Homo sapiens: one gene and its partner. The protein of the gene in region 2 interacts with the protein of the main gene of each other region in a pairwise test. Each region holds a gene or a part of one and is shown on either strand. Other genes may lie near its edges. The genes, in order: MMP1 and SOX8.

Region 1 (3,195 bases), on a different chromosome or scaffold from region 2:
AATTAATGCTGTGTCCAGATTCCGTGTTTATACTCAGTAAGCCCCTCATCACATAAAGCTGGTCTCATATACTAAAGCCAAGATTTCTGTTACTGTACACACGTGCTATTTACCCCTCATGAAAAAGGAATTTGAAACTTTCTGTCTCTAACATCCATTTAATTTCATAATTTAAAGGCTAAAAATCCTGTTTCAAAGCGTTTGGCCCATCTGACCTGCATTTAATTCTTTGCCTTGAGTGTATGGCTGAGTCAAATGTCTTACTCATTGTACTACGTTAAACACACGTTTGCAAAAATATTGGTGCGTGGCATAGTGTCTCGAGTTTTACTTTGAGTACTCCCAGGAATATGGAGGGGGTTTTAAATACATAGTTTGTGCAGAAAATATTTTTGTAAATCTAGATTCATTAAAAAGGCCAGAACGTTCTATCTCCAGTCATTTGCCTTTTGTTTAAAATGACTCCAAAATGCGCTACGCACCGTTTAGTTAAGTTGATGGACTTTCATTGATTTGGTTGGTGAGACTGAGATTTTCAAAAGTCCCTGGAGAGAATGTAGCTAGTAACCTTATATCTCAGCCCCAAAGGGAATGAAAAATTGATTTATTAAAGCAGTGAAAAATAATTAGAAAGATTACCTTTGAAAAACCGGACTTCATCTCTGTCGGCAAATTCGTAAGCAGCTTCAAGCCCATTTGGCAGTTGTGGCCAGAAAACAGAAATGAAATTGAGCTCAACTTCCGGGTAGAAGGGATTTGTGCGCATGTAGAATCTGATTAGAAAAAAAGCAAGAAAAGTTTCCATCTAATTTCTGGTAATCTCTGGCAGATATCCAGCTCCAGCTCCTTCTTGTTGCTGGCACTAGTGGTGTGCTGGTAAATGTATAACATTCAGCTCTCCAAAGAAGGGTTGGTTTATAGCATTTGCTGATTTCACTAGCTTGAAATACTCCCATTATGATGAATTTCAAGAGTCTCAGTGGAGCACCATTGTATAGCATACAAATAAAATAGGCATAAGTAACTTTAAGAACATAAATAAGTAGAAAAATGCAGTAAAAATTATGACAAACTGATGAATTTTTATTATTTTTATTACCTTTTATTTTAATGTAATTTAATTTTGTTTATATAATTTAAGTTTTATCTCTTTTTTATTTATTTACTTTTTTGAGACAGAGTCTCACTCTCTCACCCAGGCTGGAGTGTAGTGGTACAATCTTGGCTCAGAGCAACCTCTGCCTCCCAGATTCAAGGATTCTCCTGCCTCAGCCTCCTGAGTAGCTGGGATTACAGGTACAGGCCAACACGCCCAGCTAATTTTTGTACTTTTAGTAGAGACAGGGTTTCACCATATTGGCCAGGCTGGTCTTGAACTCCTGATCTCAAATGATTCCCCCGCCTCCGCCTCCCAAAGTGCTGCGATTACAAGTGTGAGCCACTGCACCTGGCCTATAATTTAATTTTTAATAATGGCTATGGTTCACAGCTAGCTTGCAAAATTCTTCAAAATTTAACAGTCAGCTTTGGTGAGCCATTAGGGATCGGCTGTGCACATTACCAACTGGACCATGACTCTAATATCCTATTATTTAGTGATTACTTACAACACACCAGGCCCATTCCTTACATCAGACCTTATCACAAGGACACTACAAGAGAGTATTTGAGGATGAGAAATTGAGGTTGGGGAGACTAAGGGAGGTGTCTAAGGCCACCCAGCTGGTAAGAGGCTAAGGTTGATTTTTAAACTCCGCTCTGGCAGCCAATCCCTTTGTTGTCCCTTGGTTAGTAGTATTTACACAAAGTGGATTATAGAGCTTAATAGGGACTAGGGTAACAGCACAGCATAGACTGTTATGTGGGCTGACACAGAAGAGCTCCAGATTCCAGGCCACAGGGAAGCCTACGGCCTTGGCTGTCGGAAACCTGACTTCTAGGTCCAGTCCTTCCTCTGCCTGGCTGTGATGCCTTAGGCAAATCAGTTACTATCTCTATCTCTAGCCTTTCATGTCTCCTCGACATGGCGACATTTAAATGATCTCTGTGTCCTTTCAATTCTGGCAAATCCTCAAATTGGTCCTGTTCCATCTAGTAATATTTGGTTTGATAGGTGTGTCCTGTTGTACTGAGAGGTTTCCTTTAAAACCATGTGTTTTCTTAACTTGTCCCAGCATTGAACCACACCCTGTATAGTTTACCTCCAGCCTTATCTTTTACACTTAAAAAGTAAAGAGAGGGCAGAAAGAATTATGAGCCAGTGCCCTGAATTCTAGGAGAGATGCGACTACAGAGTAGTAAAACAGTGCCACAGCACTTGAGAGGCTGCAGAGAATGAGCCTTTCAGGCCACCCTGAATTTCTATGTGTTGATCTTTCTGTGGACTGCATCATTCACCAAATGCGGTGTGCAATAACACACCAAAAGAGTGTGTTATTATTTTGCCTGATCCTTTAGGAATCACTATGGTACAGAGAGCAGGCCTCCTCCTTGCATGTGAGATGACCCCAACTTTTTGAGTCCACATGCTGCAGAGGGAGTTCTAGGATTCTTCTTTGAAGAGGGAAGCACCATGTTGTGGCTGCCCCTATCTGTCCCAGGAGGGATTTCATCAGTTCTTGGGGACTTTCCCAGCATTGGTGCCCTCTCTTCTCTTCTTCTCTGGGCCTCCAGGGGGCAACAGAGACCCTTCAAGTTAATAGGCTTTGGGAGGGCCATTTTTCCAGGATGGCAGGGGAGATAATTAAAGGATGGCTATGCAACCCTCATCAGTGAGATGTTGCTATGGAAAGGACCACTTTCTCCTAAGAAAGTCCAATGATACTTATCACCATAAAGAGTGGCATAATGAAAAGAGACCTGAAATAGGGAACAGAAGACCAATAACTGCTCTGCTACCAATGAGCTCTATGCCCCCAAAAGATCTCTTTCCTTCTCTCTGACTTACTTTGCTAATCTGTAAAAAAAGATCATACATACTGATTTTCAAAATCAACTATATTTTCTGAGAATCAGTTGACCTAATACATGTAGAAAAACAAAGTTGTTACAAGTACATTATGTTGCACAAATGCATGTGGTTGCTACCATGTGATTATAGATGTAAATCAGCATGAAATAAGTAACATGTGAAGCATAATAGTTAATCATAGTGGTGAATGTTGTTATTATTACAAATGCAGATCACAAAGAAGA
Region 2 (3,034 bases):
TCCTGTGAGCAGTGCATCCTCTGCCACCCCCGACCAAGATGCCTTGAGAAGCCGGGTGTCTGCACCCCAGGGGTGGCCCCCAGCCCCGAGACGCCCCCGCACCAGCCTCAGGTGCCCGGGAGACCTGGCAAAGGGACCGGCTGCCCCTCACTGGCTGTCACTCCCACAGCCATTTTCTCCCTAGAAACTTTCCTCCAACCAGACAGCTCTGCCGGCTCCTGCGGGGCGCTTTCATCCGCTCCCAGCCTGGCTCCATGCCAAGGCCCGAAAGATGCCGTCGGCTTCCTGGCATTGCACAGCCACCCAGAAACCAGCTCTGGGATTCGCCTGGGAGGAAAAACACAGCCCCGAATCGGGCCCGTCCAGACCCATTTTGCCTACCAAGGAGGCCCTCCAGGAAGGAAGACGAGGAGCTCGGTTCCCAGAGGCCGCGACGGGATTCGCGAAGGGCATGGCTGTTTCCATTCTGACTGAAGCCTGCTGACGCCTGGTGGCACGACGGGCTGCCCCTGCCGCTCGGGGGTCCGGGTGGGCTCGCGGCCGCCCTCCTTGCCGCCCAGCGTGGAGGGCACTGGGGTGAGGCCGGCGGCCGCGTGGCACGGCCTGATCCTGCCTTTGCCGGACATCTTTACCCCGGGAGCCCCAGGCTCACACAAAGCAACACACAAAATGCAGCCCACGTCCATAAAAAGCACTTTGTTTAATTTTATCAAATCGATCTGTACAAAAGTTAGCGTTGCTTGGTCAGAAAGGAGTGAAGGCAGCAGGGGAGTGAGGGTGCGTCCTCCGAACGCGGTGCCAAGGGAGACGCTGCATGAAACGGGTCTGCGACGGCTCCCGGCCCCCACCCCCACCCCCAGAGAAATAGAAGCAGAGGCATTATCTTTTTTTTCTACAAAAAAGTAGGAAAAGTAGAAAAAGTACAAAGAAGCAACTTCTCGGCTGTGTTTAAGTTTACAAAGTTTAAAGGCACAAGTTTCCGTGAAGTAGGCGCTATTGTATGCTCTATGCTCAGCACACAGGGGAAGCAGTGCAGGTGAATCAGGTATGACTCGTCTAGAACTGAGGCCCTAACGACGTTTAGTGGAGAAGGTTTAGTTTCACAGCTTGGTAGGTGGCACTGGTGCCTGCGAGCCAAGATCACTTCTGAAGCCACCACTTTCCAGGAATTCCTGTGTCCTGTGTCCTACCACATGGCACAGTCATGGGCAAGGACCCAGGAATTCCTGTGTCCTATGTGTCCTACCACGTGGCACAGTCGGGGACAGGGACGGAGTCCTGCTTCCCAAACCCCAAACTGGTACTGGGTGCTGGGGCACCCCAACCTGATCAGAGATGTCACAAGGCAGGTCCCTTCTCCTCCCTCGGGTTTTCGGTTGCCAAGCTCGAGGCATGAGGGGCCCAGTCCTCCCAGGGACCTTGGGACCTCCGGGCCCTCCAGGGCGGCCTCCCATAAGCCGAGCAACGAGCAACGTGATGCCGGCCAACAGCTGCAACTCCACCTCCTGCCTGCCCTCAAGGGAAGCTTCCCAGCTTCCGTTTTGTCTTAAATTCTACTCTTTGCCCGAATTACCTCATTAATTAAAGATAAAATAACACAGAACATAAATACATCTTTAACAGCTTTCAGAAGAAACACATTTAAGCTTCAAAAATAAAAATTATCAAAAACATAAAAATAAAAGAGAGATGTGTTCATCACAGCCAGCCCTCGCGTGAGCGCACTCTGCCAGCAAGGAGACACCTCAGATCTGACAGGCAGGTCCCGGAGATGCTCGAGTAGACTCATCCCAGTCTGCGGACAGACACCCCGGATCCCGGACAGCCCGTGCAGCCGTTGTCGAGGGAATGTGGCCTTGAGTGCAGGGGCTCTCGGCGCCAAGACCGGCCTGGACCTCACAGCGCCCTGCAAGGCCCCTGCCACCCCCTCCTTTGGTCCTTGGGCTGTGCTGCCGTTTCTCCTCTACCGAGATGCAAAGCGAAGGTGCTGGTGCCGCCAGTCCTCACGGAAGAGGGACCAAACGGCAGCCCTTCTTTGTGGAATAATCCCACCACCTCAAAAAGAAAGATAGAAGGGAGAGGGAGCTGGTCCGTCGTCGGCAGAGGTGTGGCCATCTGGAGGCCGAGGGCCACGGGCAGCAAGCGTGTTTCCCTGCAGACTTCAGCAGGCACTTGGAGCTCAGCCACTGGGGCCCCTCCCGCCCTGGTCACACACACTGGGCCGGGACAAGGCTGCCCCCTGACGCCTGCGAGTCCCTCCCCGCGGCTGGGCCCTCAGGGCCTGGTCAGGGTGGTGTACACCGGCTGGTCCCAGTGACTGGTGGGGCTGTGGGCGGGCGGCAGGGCCAGGCCGTTGAGCAGGGGTGAGGCGTAGGGCCGGCGCGGCGAGTGGAAGCAGGGGTACTGGTAGAGGCCGGGTGCGTAGCCAGGGTAGGCACCATAGTAGCTGGAGGCCTGCAGGTCGCCATAGTCGCCCTGTGAGCCGGCGAAGGGGCCGGCGGGGGCGGCCGGGGTGGCGCTGGACTGGCCGCTGCAGGAACCGTAGTCGGGCGAGCCTCGGGGCTGGTCGCCGTAGTGGCCGGGGCTCGGCTGCTCCGTCTTGATGTGCGGCCGTGGGGGACCCGTCTCGGTGGGCGACGCGGAGGCCGACGGGGCACTCTTGTGGGCCCACACGGGGGACGCCCCGGCGTGGAAGTAGGCGCCCCCATAGGCCTGGCCCGGCTCGGGTGGGGCGGGGCCGCCCAGGGGCAGGTACTGGTCGAACTCGTGGACGTCGAAGGCGTCCATGGTGCCCATGACCTCGCTGCTGAGCTCCGAGATGTCCACGTTGCTGAAGTCGATGTTCTGGCGCCCGCTGTCCACCGGCCGGCGTCCCTCCAGCTTCAGCTCCGGCTTGGCGCCCGCCTGCTGCAGCTCCGTCTTGGGGGTGGTGGGCGGGGTGGGCGGCCCGTGGGTCTGCCCTGGGGACAGGAGAGCAGGCTTCAGGGATGAATGCCCCTTCTGTGGGGCGGGTGGGGCCGGCCAGGCTGGAAGG

What was found.
Region 1: the proteins of SOX8 (region 2) and MMP1 interact in a two-hybrid assay, tested with the Homo sapiens proteins (one large-scale study listed by BioGRID and IntAct).

Annotation. Positions count from the first base shown.
Region 1 is NC_000011.10:102,791,966-102,795,160, forward strand, and holds part of MMP1 (interstitial collagenase isoform 1 preproprotein), read right to left. Parts: exon of another isoform or gene 3,183-3,195; intron 1,297-3,182; exon of another isoform or gene 1,180-1,296; intron 774-1,179; coding exon 640-773; intron 1-639. UniProt on the Homo sapiens protein: Cleaves collagens of types I, II, and III at one site in the helical domain. Also cleaves collagens of types VII and X.
Region 2 is NC_000016.10:984,627-987,660, reverse strand, and holds the end of SOX8 (transcription factor SOX-8), read right to left. Parts: intron 2,961-3,034; coding exon 2,275-2,960; 3' UTR 682-2,274; downstream 1-681. UniProt on the Homo sapiens protein: Transcription factor that may play a role in central nervous system, limb and facial development. May be involved in male sex determination. Binds the consensus motif 5'-[AT][AT]CAA[AT]G-3'.